Regions from separate parts of the Homo sapiens genome. Here region 1 is linked to region 2. The links come from fine-mapping of genetic effects on gene expression. A gene starts in region 2. The other region holds a variant in brackets. All regions are shown on one strand. Distances are between the middles of the regions. Region 1 has its middle 40 kb from the start of SDR9C7. Region 2 holds the start of COQ10A (coenzyme Q10A).

Region 1 (8,223 bases), 630 kb before region 2:
TTTGTGTTGGGGCACCTACTGTAAGTGAGCACTGTGCTAGGGCCTGGGGATATGATCGTGAACATGCCACAGTTCTCACCCTAGAGCAACTTTCAGTGTCAAGAAGTAGACACAAATAAATAAGAATTTATAATAACATATGATATGCATAATGGCAAGAGAAGAATAGGCTGTCATAGGAACTCATACAAGGCAGAGGCAATTAGTCTAGGCTTGGGAGGTCAGAGAAGATTTCTTGGAAGAAGTAATGTCTGCACTGAGAGTAAGGAATGAGTCAGAACTAGGCAGGCAGCTAACTGGCCTACACTGTGCATTATTCACAAATGTTCAAGACCAGGCAAGTTTAACTCAACCTCTCACCCACTCACCTTACTTCTAGGTCACCTTCTCTACTTTGTCTCCTTGCCTCACCCTACCTATGTAATTTGGCATTTTATCTTCCAGGAATTCCAGCTCATATTGACATTTATTTTAGCCAGATAGGTTTACAAAGGTAAATGTGTAGCAATAAAAGGGATCCTTGGCCTGGCAATTGAGAAACAAAATCCCCAAATTCCTGGAAGCTTCTGAGCATGAGGTGCCAAGCCAATTGGCTGGGCTTCTCTACAAGAGTTCAGGTACCTGATGGGGGTTGGACTAGATAACCTTGAAATTCTAGTCCTGGGTCTACTATTGAGTAACTGTGTGATGTTGGGCAAGTTTCTTTTTTTTAATTTTAAGTTCTGGGATACATGTGCTGAATGTGCAGGTTTGTTACATAGGTATATACGTGCCATGGTGGTTTGCTGCAACTATCAACCTGTCTTCTAGGTTTTAAGCCCTGCATGCATTAGGTATTTGTCCTAATGCTCTCCCTCACCTTTCCCCCATGCCCTGACAGGCCTTGGTGTGTGATGCTCCCCTCCCTGTGTCCATGTATTCTCATTGTTCAACTCCCACTTATGAGTAAGAACATGTGGTGTTTGGTTTTCTGTTCCTGTGTTAGTTTGCTGAGGATGATGGTTTCCAGCTTCATCCATGTCCCTGCAAAGGACATGAGCTCATTCCTTTTTATGGCTGCATAGTATCCCATGGTGTATCTGTGATGTTGGGCATTTTCTTAACCTTGCTAGGCTCTCTTGGTTTTTTATTAGCAAAAGAGAGGGTGTAAGTCCCCAGATGCCTTCCACCTTTAATAGGAAGTGAATCAAGTTTTTATGCAAAGCTAACTAGAATAGATTCTTGAATGGACAGTACCATAGAAAGCAAGCTGAGGTCCTCACTAAAATGAGAAAGATTCTACCTAAAGTGCCAAGGTAACGTTTAGGAATAGAGCTAGTGGGCTTGCAATCTACCCCAATAGCTCTCTCAGGCTTACAATGCACTTCTCTCATAGGTCTTTTTTCCACGTGGTTGAAGAAGGTTTCCATTGTGCTTCTATAGGTTGCACTTACTTATAAATGTTATTGATTGAAGTTAACCAGATCTGTCTCTAGGGACAGACAGCAAGGGACACATACTGTTTCGTATCCCCACACTTGTTACTGCGTCTGGTTATATTCATTTCTCTCTCTTACTAACATGTTTTCCTGGAAGAACCCCTGCTTCTAACTGGGACTAGGCAGAAACCTACAGTAAGTAAGGTAGACCCATTCCACAGCTCACTCCAGGTGTCCAGATGCCACCTGCAAGCTTAAGCCAAACACACTGATGGCCACTAACTCCAATATAATGACAAGTCCTATTCTGATAAATCCCACAATAATATGACCTATTGGCTGAATACATGTTGGCTAAATATGCAAGTCTTCAATATGCTCAAAGAGTCAACCCAAATTCTCTGTTTTCCAATTTCCAGTTCTAGAATAAATAACTTCTCTTTTAACACTCCTGCTGGGAAGGGAAGGTGGTGGACAGCACTTTCATCTAGTTTAAGCCTGGGGTTCTTACATGTTCCAGAGAGCAGGAGGGGGTGCCCGAGGTCGAGACATCCACACAGCTAATAATGTGTGTGTGTGGTGCATGTGTTGGGGGGGTGTGTGTGTGTGGTGTGGTGTGGTTTGTGTGTGTGTTGTGTGTGGTGTGTATGTGGTGCGTGTGGGGGGGTGTGTGGGGTGTGTGTGCAGTGACTGTGTGTTGTGTGTGTGTGATGTGGTGTGTGTAATGTGTGTGTTTGGTGCATGTGTGGTGTGTGTGGTATAGTGTGTGTGGTGTATGTGTGATGAGTGTTGTGTGTGTGGTATGTGTGTTGTGTGTGTGTGGTGTGTGTGTGGTGCATGTGTGTGGTGCATGTGGTGTGGTGTATGTGGTGTGCATGTGTGTGGTGTGTATGATGTGATGTGTGTGTGTGTGGTGTGGTGTGTGGTGGTGTGTGTGGTGTAATGTGTGTATGTGGTGTGTGTGTGATGTGCATGTGTGTGTTGTGTATGGTGTGGTGTGTGTGGTGTGCATGTGTGTAGTGTGTGTGCATGATGTGTGCACAAGGTAAGGATGGTGGAGGAGGGCAAGGGATGTCAAGTTGGTTTTCATTTCATTTGGGGAAAATGAAAGGTGAATGATTGAGCCGTTCATAACTGGCACAGGCATAAGGGGACTGTTTACTACAGACCCATTCTAACCTGCAAATAGTGGTGTCTTCTTGACCCTACAGTGCTGGGCTCTTATGAAGTGCTCATGTTTGTGGGATCAAAGAATGTCACATATGTATTTGCTTCCTAAAGGAAATGTGTATTTGTCAGGCATATTTTCCCCTTGTAGCAATGTTGTTTATGTTGTTCCTGAGCAGATATTAAAAGGAGTGCTTGAGTATACATTTAATAAACCTCACCCGTGTTATAGACCCTGGAGTCTCATCTGTTTTTCCCTTGTTACCATTTACCTTAAAACAAAGGAGCAAACAAGAAAACACACACACACACACAAGCCCTTTTATCATTTTTCCTCATTATATAAGTAACATATGCTCATTGTAAGACATCAGAACACATGGATAAGAAAGAAGGAGGAAATAATAATGAGCATATATGTCTCATTATTATTAGTAGAGATAATAGTATAGTACTAGTACTAATAGATATAGTTAGTAGAGATAATATCTCTACCACTCAGAGACAACCAGTATTAATATGTTTGTGACCATACATACAGACTTTTTTTGATGCATGTCTATGGTTTAAAAATGGATCACAGGGCTGAGTGCAGTGGCTCATGCCTGTAATCCAAGCACTCTGGGAGGAGGCCAAGGTGGGAGGATCACTTGAGCCCAGGAGTTTGAGACCAGCCTGGGCAACATGGCAAAACCTCGTCTCTACAAAAAAAAAAAAAAAGTACAAAAAAAAAATTAGCCAGGCATGGTGGCAAATCTCTGTGGTCTCAGCTACTCAGGAGGCTGAGGTGGGAGGATTGTTTGAGCACAGGAGGTCAAGGCTGCTGTGAGCTGTGATCTTGCCACTATACACACTGTGATCTTGCCTGGGTGACAGAGCAAGATTGTCTCAAAAAATTTTTTTAATTAAACAAATAAATAAATACTGTGTCATAGTGTTCATATGATACTTTTTTCTCTTAATACACATTTAAGTGCTAAATATATTTTATATCGTATTTACATCACAGTGTTTTTATTGTATGACTGTGCCACATCTTATCTATTCTTGGCTGGCTGGATTGTTTCCAATATTTAGCGATCATTCACAGCACTGCAAGATAGTTAAATGTTTAAGTGGTTATTTTATTGTTACCTTTCATATAGTAAAATTTTGAAAATAAAAATGCTGATCCAATGGGTGTGCATATTTTATGTGGTTTTTAAGATTATTTTACGAGCTACCAAGTTACCTTCAGAACGCTCAATCAGTGTCTGAATACCCAGGTCCTTGAGTTCTTGCCAGCCTTAGACACTTATTTATAACAGAAACAAGCAAACAAGACATTTGGTTATTTTAAAGTAATTTTTGTTTTACTTGGCATTTCTTTAATTGCTGGGGAGGTAAAATTTCTTTTCATATGTTTATTGATGTTTTTCTTTTTAGCCAAGTCAGTATTTGAGTCTTTTGTTAATTTTTCTGTTGAATAATTTAAATGCCTTGTTTTCCATGGGAATTATATCAGTGCCTAGAATCGCCCTGACTGGAAGCCCATTTTGTAATTATAGGTGTTAAGTGAGGCTTTGAGTGTGTGCATGTATGTATGTGTGTGTTCTTGAGCAGGACATTTATGAGTAGGAAAATCTTTTCTGGGGATACTTTGATTATTAAAATTAATGTTTGATTTGTTAAACTTACAACTAAAAACATATTTTTTCATAATTTGTTTAATCTATTTTATTTTATTTATACAATTTAGCAAATATTATCAATTTCTTTTTTTTGATAGTGAACATTTAATTTAAACCTGACAAAAAATACATCAATGCATATGCTACCAAGACTTAGTAATTAAATCATATTAGGATTGAGAAGCTCTTATTCTAGCATGATTTCTATATGAGCTGCCATATTGTTCACTTTGACTCTTTTTTTTTTATTGTACTTTAAGTTCTAGGGTACATGTGCACAATGTGCAGGTTTGTTACATATGTATACATGTGCCATGTTGGTGTGCTGCACCCATTAACTCGTCATTTACATTAGGTATCTCCCCTAATGGTATCCCTCCCCCTCCCCCTACCCCACGATAGACCCCAGTGTGTGATGTTCCCCATCCTGTGTCCAAGTGTTCTCATTGTTCAATTCCCACTTATGAATGAGAACATGCGGTGTTTGGTTTTCTATCCTTGCGATAGTTTGCTGAGAATGATGGTTTCCAGCTTCATCCATGTCCCTACAAAGGACATGAACTCATCCTTTTTTATGGCTGTATAGTATTCCATGGTCTATATGTGCCACATTTTCTTAATGCAGTCAATCACTGATGGACATTTGGGTTGGTTCCAAGTCTTTGCTGTTGTGAATAGTGCCGCAATAAACATACATGTGCATGTGTCTTTATAGTAGCATGATTTATAGTCCTTTGGGTATATACCCAGTAATGGGATGGCTGGGTCAAACGGTATTTCTAGTTCTAGATCCTTGAGGAATTGCCACTGTCTTCCACAACAGTCGAACTAGTTTACAGTCCCACCAACAGTGTAAAAGTGTTCCTATTTCTCCACATCCTCTCCAGCACCTGTTGTTTCCTGACTTTTTAATGATC[G/A]CCATTCTAACTGGTGTGAGATGGTATCTCATTGTGGTTTTGATTTGCATTTCTCTGATGGCCAGTGAAGATAAGCATTTTTTCATGTGTCTCTTCACTGCATAAATGTCTTCTTTTGAGAAGTGTCTGTTCATATCCTTTGCCCACTTTTTGATGGGGTTGTTTGATTTTTTCTTGTAAATTTGTTTAAGTTCTTTGTAGATTCTGGATATTAGCCCTTTGTCTAATGGATAGATTGCAAAAATTTTCTCCCATTCTGTAGGTTGCCTGTTCACACTGATGATAGTTTATTTTGCTGTGCAGAAGCTCTTTAGTTTAATTAGATACCATTGGTCAATTTTGGCTTTTGTTGCCATTGCTTTTGGTGTTTTAGTCATGGAGTCCTTGCCCATGCCTATGTACTGAATAGTATAGCCTAGGTTTTCTTCTAGGGTTTTTATGGTTTTAGGTCTAACGTTGAAGTCTTTAATCCATCTTGAATTAATTTTTGTATAAGGTGTAAGGAAGGGATCCAGTTTCAGCTTTCTACATATGGCTAGCCAGTTTTCCCAGCACCATTTATTAAATAGGGAATCCTTTCCCCATTTCTTGTTTTTGTCAGGTTTGTCAAAGATCAGATGGTTTTAGATGTGTGGTGTTATTTCTAAGGGCTCTGTTCTGCTCCATTGGTCTATATGTCTGTTTTGGTACCAGTACCATGCTGTTTTGGTTACTGTAGCCTTGTAGTATAGTTTGAAGTCAGGTAGCATGATGCCTCCAGCTTTGTTCTTTTGGCTTAGGATTGTCTTGGCAATGTGGGCTCTTTTTTGGTTCCATATGAACTTTAAAGTAGTTTTTTCCAATTCTGTGAAGAAAGTCATTGGTAGCTTGATGGGGATGGCATTGAATCTATAAATTACCCTAGGCAGTATGGCCATTGTCATGATATTGACTTTTCCTATTCATGACCATGGAATGTTCTTCCATTTGTTTGTATCCTCTTTTATTTCATTGAGCCGTGGTTTGTAGTTCTCCTTGAAGAGGTCCTTCACATCCCTTGTAAGTTGGATTCCTAGGTATTTTAATCCTTTGTAGCAATTGTGAATGGGAGTTCACTTATGATTTGGCTCTCAGTTTGTCTGTTATTGGTATATAGGAATGCTTGTTATTTTTGCACATTGATTTTGTATCCTGAGACTTTGCTGAATTTGCTTATCAGCTTGAGGAGATTTTGGGCTGAGACGATGGGTTTTTCTAAATATACAATCATGTCGTCTGCAAACAGGGACAATTTGACTTCCTCTTTTCCTAGGTGAATGCCCTTTATTTCTTTCTGTTGCCTGATTGCCCTGGCCAGAACTTCCAACACTGTGTTGAAAAGGAATGGTGAGAGAGGGCGTCCCTGCCTTGTGCCAGTTTTCAGAGGGAATGCTTCCAGTTTTTGCCCATTCAGTATGATATTGGCTGTGGGTTTGTCATAAATAGTTCTTATTATTTTGAAATACATCCCATCAATACCTTGTTTATTGAGTTTTTAGCATGAAGGGCTGTTGAATTTTGTCAAAGGCCTTTTCTGCATCTATTGAGATAATCATGTGGTTTTGTGTTTGGTTCTGTTTGTGTGATGGATTATGTTTGTTGATTTGCATATGTTGAACCAGACTTGCATCTCAGGGATAAAGCCAAATTGGTCTTGTTGGATAAGCTTTTTGATGTGCTGCTAGATTTGGTTTGCCAGTATTTTATTGAGGATTTTCACATCAATGTTCATCAGGGATATTGGTCTAAAATTCTCTTTTTTTGTTGTGTCTCTGCCAGGCTTTGGTATCAGGATGATGCTGGCCTCATAAAATGAGTTAGGGAGAATTACCTCTTTTTCTATTGATTGGAATAGGTTTATAAGGAATGGTACCAGTTCCTCTTTCTTCCTCTGGTAGAATTCGGCTGTGAATCCATCTGGTCCTGGACTTTTTTTTGGTTGATAGGCTGTTAATTATTGCCTCAATTTCAGAGTCTGTTATTGGTCTATTCAGGGATTCAAGTTCTTCCTGGTTTAGTCTGGGAGGGTATGTGTGTCCTGGAATGTATCCGTTTCTTCTAGATTTTGTAGTTTATTTGTGTAGAGGTGTTTATAGTATTCTCTGATGGTAGTTTGTGTTTCTGTGGGATCAGTGCTGATATCCCCTTTCTCATTTTTATTGTGTCTATTTGATTCTTCTCTCTTTTCTTCTTTATTAGTCTTGCTAGCGGTCTATCAATTTTGTTGATCTTTTCAAAAAACCAGCTCCTAGATTCATTGATTTTTTGAAGGGTTTTTGTGTCTCTATCTCCTTCAGTTCTGCTCTGCTCTTAGTTATTTCCTGCCTTCTGCAAGCTTTTCCATTTGTTTGCTCTTGCTTGTCTAGTTCTTTTGATTGTGATGTTAGGATGTTGATTTTAGATCTTTCCTGCTTTCTCTTGTGGGCATTTTGTGCTATAAATTTCCCTCTACATACTGCTTTAAATGTGTCCCAAAGATTCTGGTACATTGTGTTTTTGTTCTCATCAGTTTCAAAGACCATCTTTATTTCTGCCTTCATTTCGTTTTTTAGCCAGTAGTCATTCAGGAGCAGGTTGTTCAGTTTCCATGTAGTTGAGTGGTTTTGAGTAAGTTTCTTAATCCTGAGTTCTAATTTGATTGCACTGTGGTCTGAGGGACAGTTTGTTGTGATTTCTGTTCTTTTACATTTGCCGAGGAGTGCTTTGCTTCCGACTATGTTGTCAATTTTGGAATACGTGTGATGTGGTGCTGAGAGGAATGTATATTCTGTTGATTTGGGGTGGAGAGTTCTGTAGACGTCTATTAGGTCAGCTTGGTGCAGAGCTGAGTTCAAGTCATGGATATCCTTGTTAACCTTCTGTCTCGTTGATCTGTCTAATCTTGACAGTGGGGTGTTAAAGTCTCCCGTTATTATTGTGTTGGAGTCTAAGTCTCTTTTTAGGTCTCTAAGGACTTGCTTTATGAATCTGGGTGCTCCTGTATTGGGTGCATATATATTTAGGATAGTTAGCTCTTCTTGTTGAATTGATCCC
Region 2 (8,178 bases):
GAACCCAATTTCTGGGAAATTGAGAGGAGAAACAGTATTATGAACACAGACTCCTTTCAAATTGGAACAGGAGCCAAACCAAATAAATAAGAGAATTGTGTAGGGAAGTGGGGTAGAAGGGAGGTCAGGGAGCAATCCCTTGCCTCAAGTCTGGTGCACCTCATGGAACATCAGTTCACGGGGGATGGCTGTTTCTGGACCAAACTTGGTGGCTGCCCGACGCTCAAAGGCAGCAACATTCTGTTTGACAACCTCATCAAAAAACATGGTGGCCAGCTGGGAGTGCAGCAGAGAACGAAATTCAAAGGAAATCTGGGAATGGGTAAGAGACAGTCAGAAACTTCCAGACCATGTTGGATAGTCCCTGGCCAAATGCAAGGAAACTGTTCCTCAGTGCCTTTTCTCCCCCTCCCCATCCAGTTCGTGGATCCCCGTAAGAGCCCTAACTTGGGACTGAGCACGGAGTACGAGTCTGACACAAGCTCAGACTAACTGACTTGGGAAATGCTAGCTATACTTAAAGAATAACCCTGTCAGGTCGGTGCGGTGGCTCACGCCTGTAATCCCAGCACTTTGGGAGGCCAAGGCGGACGGATCACCTGAGGCCAGGAGTTTGAGAGCAGCCTAGCCAAAATGGTGAAACCCCGTCTCTACTAAAAATAAAAAATCAGTCGGGCTTGGTAGCAGGCTCCTGTAATCCCAGCTACTTGGGAGGCTGAGGCAGGAAAATCGCTTGAACCCAGAAGGTGGAGGTTGCAGTGAGCCAAGATCGTGCCATTGCACTCCAGCCTGGGTGACGGAGCAAGACTCCATCTCAAATAAATTAATAACCCTGTCACAGTACCCCAGCCCTTCCTCATACCCAGTCCTCGTCCTCTGCTACACAACCTCCTGACTCACCGAAAAGTCCACAGTGCAGGTTCGAGGATAGGCAGGAATACCAGGGCTGAATCGCCAAATAGTCTCTAAGTGGTTGAAGAGCTTGCCATCAGTACAAACAGCCTAGAATAGGGTAATCAGGTAGTTAAATAACATTACTAAGTATAGGATACAATATAAAGGAATTGAAAGCCATTTTCCTTCTTTTCTGATATGAGGGAAATACTTGACACATGGACATAAAGTACTTACAAGGAAGGCCAAAATAGCACTTTCATATGAAACTGCTAAAAACAAAAAATCTTGTCAATCCCTCCCATACAGGCCTCACCTTGACCATGTGAGGTTTGACCATGGAAACTGCAGAGGTGTAACGTTCCATGACAGGTGGAAAGCCAACCTCCAGCTGGGCTTTCAAATGACCCTTACGGCTGGATACCACCAGAGACTTCTTACACCAGGGCACAAACTCACGATACTCCTGGACGTTGGACACCACCTCATACATCTCCTGCATTGAGTACCTAGGAGAAGAAGAATCACAGGCCAAGGAGCTGCCAGCTGGGTCAGGTTCCTCCTTGCTATAGGCCCCTAATTCATACCTTTGCCCACTAACCACGCACCTTCAGGAACTACAGATCCCAAATAAGCCTGGATGAATAACTTCCCAAAAGCAAACGTGTAAATCCTTATGATACTGTTACCTTATATTTTGCAGTTTACAGAATGCTTTTGCATTCATTGTTTATTTTGATTTTAAGAGGGACCATCTAGGGAGAACAGAGGCTGTCAGTTTTACTGGTGATCACACAAGGATCAGATCCCAGCTCTTAACAATTTTTTAACAATGTGGCCTTAGGTAAATTACCTGTGTCTCCATTTTCTCACCTGATTTATAGGTTTGTTGTGAGAATTAAATGAGAAATATCTATGTAAAACATCTAAGTCAAGCTGCTAGCATGTAGCAAGTGCTCGATAATTTAGCTATTATGCTCAAAATATACTAAAAAGGTTACGCTGCTAATTTACACATACTAGGTACCCATAAAAATTATTTTTAAATGGTCACCAGAAAAATACACCCTGTTTTTTGTTTTGTTTTTTGAGACAGTCTTGCTCTGTCGCCCAGGCTGGAGTGCAGTGGGGCAATCTCAGCTCACTGCAACCTCTGCCTCCCAGGTTCCAGCGATTATCCTGCCTCAGCCTCCCAAATAGCTGGGATTAAAGGCGCCCGCCACCGTGCCAGGCTGATTCTTGTGTGTGTGTTTTTTTTTAGTGGAGACAGGGTTTCACCATGTTGGCCAGGCTGGTCTCGAACTCCTGACCTAAAACGATCGGCCCGCCTCAGCCTCCCAAAGTCCTGGGATTACAGGCGTGAGCCACCGCACCCAGCTACGCCCTGTTGTCTTAAAGTATAGTCCAACCCTAGTCTCATTTCACTTAAGCACATGCACAGCAACCAAGAAGGGAGAAATTAAGGTCGGAAGAGTGGCAGGGGAGGACTGAGGATCAGTATTGTAGCTGGGGAGGGGGATGGCTAGGGATGAATCTTGCCCACCGATGATACCCTGACATTCTTGCCTGGACAGGGTTATTTGGAGGGAAAAGGGAGGTGCAAGGATGCAAGGCAGAGAATGCTTACCCCATGATTCTACGCTCCGAGTAAGCCTTTCGCTTGTTGGTGAAGGGAGCAGCAAATCCCATGAAGGAACGGCTCGAAGGTAAGCCAGCCTCAGCCGCCAAGATCTGGGCAGCCCGAGGCAAGAGGAGGCTGCAGGAGGTCAGAAACCTAAGGCCAAAGGAAAGAGGAGCCAACCGTATAGTTCTTCGTAATCCTCTATCATTTGTAGGTGAAGGAGAAGAAGAGTGCATCCCAGACGAAGGTCGTCCAAACAAGCTTTCCCCCCAGCACCTGCTGCAGCCCGCTAGGCTCTCTCTGGCCAGGGAGTCACGAGTGCAAAAGGTCGAGGGCAGCTAAGGACAGGGCTGGGGGCGGGGTGAGGGGGATGAGAAAAAGGGGTGTGTGGGAAGCGCCAGTTGCCTTTGACTGGGCCTACACTACTGCTGAAAGCTAAGACTTTAAGGAAGCATCACTGTCCCCGGGGACCCCAGGGCGCCCGCGAGGGCCAAGAAGAGGTTGGACACTCACCCCGAGAACTTCCCTTCTCGTACAACTTGCAAAAGCATTATCCAAAGCTCTACGTTAGCTCCCAGGGCATGATTGCTGCCAGTCCCCGCCGCGCCTGCATCCCAGTATAGCACCCCTCCACCGCGGAACCCCGGGGTTCGCAGCGACCCCCTGCCCTCAGCCGCGGTCACCTCCCTCTCACCTCATTGGTCGCGGCGGTGGCAGAGGGCCTGGGGGCGGGGCCGGTTGCGCGCCCGGGCTGAGCGAGAGCCGGCAGCAGCGCTCGGCTGCCGCGCGCGTCCCAGCTGGGACCCGCCGCGAGCCCGCCCAGGCCATGCGCGCGACCCTGCCTGGCCCTCTAAGTTCTGACGCGGGCTGCGCCCTCCTCACTCCAAAGGCGGAGCGGCAAGAGGCAGCGGCTGGGCTGGTTCGGGACCTCTGAGCGCAGGGGCGACGGGAGGCGGCAGCACCTCTCGCCTTGCTCCCGTCCAGGCTGCCGGGTAGGCTAGAACTGAAGCCGGGACCGCTGCTCCCGCAGATCTCGGTACCCCCACGTCACGCTGTTGCCATGGCTCGGGCCTGGGAGAGGAAGGAAGGAAGGAAGGGGACAACGCCGCCTGTCGGGAGATGTAGTTTCACACCTGTGGCGAGAAAGGGCACTGGGGTGTGCGTTTGAGAAGCTGCAAAGATGGTTCGGGGACTGAGGTCGCCTGTGGTCACAGGACCCGATAGGTAGGCACAGAGGCGACTTCGTGGGCGTGTCTACCGCAGATATCTGTAGATCCTCTGAACGTCGCTGTTAGAGCCTTAGGTTCTCTAGAGGGACATAGTGAATAGGATAAATGTATATATGAAAGGGAGTTTATTAAGAATTGCCTCACAGGATCACAAGGTAAAGTCTCACATTAGGCCGTCTGCAAGTTGAGGAGCAAGGAGGCCAGTGGTGGATCAGTCCAAGGCCCAAAACCTCAAAAGTAGGGAAGCCGGCAGTGCAGCCTTCAGTCTGTGGCCAAAGCCCCGAGAGCCCTTGGCAAACCACTGGTGTAAGTCCAAGAGTCCAAAAGCTGAAGAACTTGGAGTCTGATGTTCGAGGGCAGGAAGCATCCAGCATGAGAGAAAGACGAAGGCCGGAAGACTTCAGCAAGTCAGCTTCTTCCACCTACTTTTACTTTTATTTATTTATTTATTTATTTATTTATTTATTTATTTATTTGAGACGGAGTCTCGCTCTGTTGCCCAGACTGGAGTGCAGTGGCACGATCTCAGCTCACTGCAACCTTGGCCTCCCAGGTTCAAGCGATCCTCCTGCCTCACCACCCCCGCCCCGCCCCCCTCCCCAGTACCTGGGATTACAGGCATGCGCCACCATGCCCAGCTAATTTTTGTATTTTTAGTAGAGATGGGGTTTCGCCATGTTGGCCAGGCTGGTCTCGAACTCCTGACCTCAGGTGATCCACCCGTCTCGGCTTCCCAAAGTGCTGGGATTACAGGTGTTAGCCACCATGCCTAGCCCTGCCTACTTTTTCTAGCGTCGCTGGCAGCGGATTGGATGGTGCCCACCATTGAGACTGGGTCACTTCCTTCCAGTCCACTGACTTAAATGTTAATCTCCTTTGGCAACACCCTCACAGACACTCAGGAACAACACTTTGCCTCCTTCAATCCAATCAAGTTGACACTCAATCATCACAGAGCCTTTATCATATTCGGCCTTGTTTATAGTTAGAAGCACTGTTCATCTTTGTAGCTTCCACAAGTGGTTAGTGCTGTGTTCTACATTTTTGGGAAAGGAGATTAACATTCCAAGCTCTGGGCTAAGACTGCATAGTTTTTACCTTTAATATTTATAGAAAGAAGTCGAGGTAGGAAGAACCAGATATTCTTAGGACAGAGAACCATCTTTGTTTGAAAAGTGTGCGCTTGATGAAGAGTGAGACCTCATGGACAGAAACCCACGCAATTAAATACCACTATACTACTTTTCATGATTCAAGGAGAAAAAAAAAATGCTCTTGGCTAGGCATGGTGGCTCACGTCTGTAATCCCAGCACTTTGGGAGGCTGAGGCGGGCAGATCACTTGAGGTCAGGAGTTCAAGACCAGCCTGGCCAACATAGTGAGACCTTATCTCTACTAAAAATACAAAAATTAGCCAGGTATGGTGGCGGGCGCCTCTAATCCCAGCTACTCGGGAGGCTGAGGCAGGAGAATCGCTTGAACCCAGGAGGCGGAAGTTGGAGTGAGCTGAGATTGTGCCACTGCACTCCAGCCTGAGCAACAGAGCAAGACTCCATCTCAAAAAAAAAAAAAAAAAAAAAAGGAAAGAAAGAAAAGAAAAGAAAGCAAGCGAGCAAGAAAGAGAAAAAATGCTCTTGATAAAAGTCAGGTGGGCCAGGTGCGGTGGCTCATGCCTGTAATCTCAGCACTTTGGGAGGCCGAGGTGGGTGGATCACGAGGTCAGGAGATCGAGACCATCCTGGCTAACAGGGTGAAACTGCATCTCTACTAAAAATACAAAAAATTAGCCGGGCGTGGTGGTGGGTACCTGTAGTCCCAGCTACTCAGGAGGCCGAGGCAGGAGAATGGCATGAACCCGGGGAGCGGAGCTTGCAGTGAGCCAAGATCGCACCACTGCACTCCAGCCTGGGCAGCAGTGCAAGACTCCATCTCAAAAAAAAAAAAAAAAAAAAGTCAGGCAAACAAAAGAAAAAAAGGAAGGGAAGAAAGAAATCAACAATTAGAAAGAGATTGGGCTAAGTGCAGTGGCTCATGCCTGTAATCCCAGCACTTTGGGAGGCTGAGGTGGGAGGATCACTTGAGGCCAGGAGTTCAAGACCAGCCTGGGCAACATAGTGAGAACTTGTCTCTCCAAAAATAAAAAAGAAAAAAAAAAGAGAGACTAGAACTAGGTGGGTGCAAGAGAATGGTGGTGCCTGCTGTTGAGTTTTAAGAAATTCATGCTATTACAGTACAAGCCTTTCCTCTGCTTGCTTTCTAAATCTTCAGTCAAGCTCTCCACTTTCAGGAAATCTTTCCCTGAGAAGTGTTGTGTGTGGTGGTTATGCAGAGGGGCAGGGGATAAAGTAAATAAAGACTGTGTTGTAGCCAGGCATGGTGGCTCATATCTGTAATTGCAGCACTTTGGGAGGTGAAGGTTGGTGGATCACCCGAGCCCGGGAGTTTGAGACCAGCCTGGGCAATATGGTGAAACCTTGTCTCTACAAAAAATACAAAAAAATTTAGCCAGGCATGGTGGCACATGCCTGTAATCCCAGCTACTTGGGAGTCTGAGTTGGATCACCTGGGCCCAGGAGGTTGAGGCTGCAGTGAGCCGTGATTGCACCACTGCACTCCAGTCTGTGTGACGGGAGTGAGACCCTGTCTCAGAAAAACAAAAACAAAAACAAAAAAAGACTGTGTTGCAATTCTTGTCCAACTAATCTGGAAGAGACATCTGGTCTAGAAACAGGGTAGCTCTTGGGCCGGGCACGGTGGCTCACACCTGTAATCCCAGCACTTTGGGAGGCCAAGGCAGGCGGATCATGAGGTCAGGAGATCAAAACCATCCTGGCCAACGTGGCAAAAACCCATTTCTACAAAAAATACAAAACATGTCCGGGCGCAGTGGCTCACTGCCTGTAATCCCAGCACTTTGGGAGGCCAAGGCGGGTGGATCACGAGGTCAGGAGATGGAGACCATCCTGGCTAACATGGTGAAACCCTGTCTCTACTAAAAATACAAAAAATTAGCTGGGCATGGTGGCGGGCGCCTGTAGTCCTGGCTACTCAGGAGGCTGAGGTTGAGGCAGGAGAATGGCCTGAACCTGGGAGGCGGAGGTTGCAGTAGGCCGAGATCACGCCACTGCAGTCTAGCCTGGGCGACACAGCGAGACTCCGTTTCAAAAACAAAACAAAACAAAACAAAAAGCCAGATGTGGTGGTACGCACCTATAGTCCCAGCTACTCGGGAGGCTGTGGCAGAGAATCACTTGAGCCCGGGAGGCAGAGGTTGCAGTGAGTGGATATTGTGCCACTGCACTCCAGCCTGGGGGACAGACGGAGACTCTGTCTCAAAAAAAAAAAAAAAAAAAATGCGGGGCGAGATGGTTCGCACCTGTAATCCCAGCACTTTGGGAGGCCAAGCAGGTGGATCACCTGAGGTTGGGAGTTCAAGACCAGCCTGACCAACAAGGAGAGACCTCATCTCTACTAAAAATACAAAATTAGCCGGGCGTGGTGGTGCATGCCTGTAATCCCAGCTACTCGGGAGGCTGAGGTAGGAGAATCACTTGAACCCCAGAGGTAGAGGTTGCGGTGAGCCTAGATGGCGCCATTGCACTCCAGCCTGGGCAACAAGAGCAAAACTCCGTCTCAAAAAAAAAGTTTGAGCCCATCTTCTCTGGATTTCAAGTAAGCAAGAGCCATTGGGTGATCATCAAAACCCATTTTTAATAAGCTGTTCTACCTCTATAGCAGTTAGTACTACCAATTCAAAATAATTATTGACCAAATGAATATGTTTTATTATTTATCTATTTAATTTTTGAGACGGGGGTCTCACTCTGTCACCCAGATTGGAGTGCATTGGTGTAATCTCGGCTCACTGCAACCTCTGCCTTCCAGGTTCAAGTGATATTCCCACCTCAGCCTCCCAAATAGCTGCGACCACAGGGGCACACTACCACATTTTTGGTAGAGACAGGGTTTCATCTTCTTGCCCAGGTTGGTCTCAAACTCCTGAACTCAAGCAATATGTCCACGTTGGCCTTCCAAAGTGCTGGGATTACAGGCATGAGCCACCATGCCTGGACTATAAATGTGTTTTGTCAACTTTTCTTTTTTTTTTTAATTTTTTTTTTTTTTAATTTTGAGACAGAGTTTCACTCTTGTTGCCCATGCCGGAGTGCAATGGCGCGATCTCGGCTCACTGCAACCTCAGCCTCCTAGGTTCAAGCGATTCTCCTACCTCAGCCTCCCAAGTAGTTGGGATTACAGGCATGCACCACCACACCCGGCTAATTTTGTATTTTTAGTAGAGACGGGGTTTCTCCATGTTGATCAGGCTGGTCTTGAACTCCCAACCTCAGGTGATCCACCTGCTTGGCCTCCCAAAGTGCTGGGATTACAGGCATGAGCCACCGTGCCCGGCCGCCACCTTTCCGTTTATCCTCT

Evidence for each region.
Region 1: its variant is fine-mapped to the expression of COQ10A in spinal cord (GTEx, PIP above 0.99).

What each region holds. Positions count from the first base shown.
Region 1 is chr12:56,890,325-56,898,547 of GRCh38, reverse strand. No RefSeq gene overlaps it. Among named protein-coding and RNA genes, the nearest start is that of SDR9C7, 40 kb to the left of the region's middle. The variant G/A (reference allele first, on the strand shown) is at 5,173.
Region 2 is chr12:56,262,284-56,270,461 of GRCh38, reverse strand. It overlaps COQ10A (coenzyme Q10A), which reads right to left and starts at 3,520. Exons shown (of 5, transcript NM_144576.4): 1 at 3,210-3,520; 2 at 2,522-2,668; 3 at 1,211-1,403; 4 at 901-1,002; 5 at 1-312. The coding sequence starts at 3,343. The coding sequence ends at 145. RefSeq lists enhancers at 2,738-2,807, 3,257-3,426, 2,950-3,449, 3,518-3,627, 6,274-6,443 and 1 more, a cis regulatory region at 3,341 and a silencer at 3,088-3,417.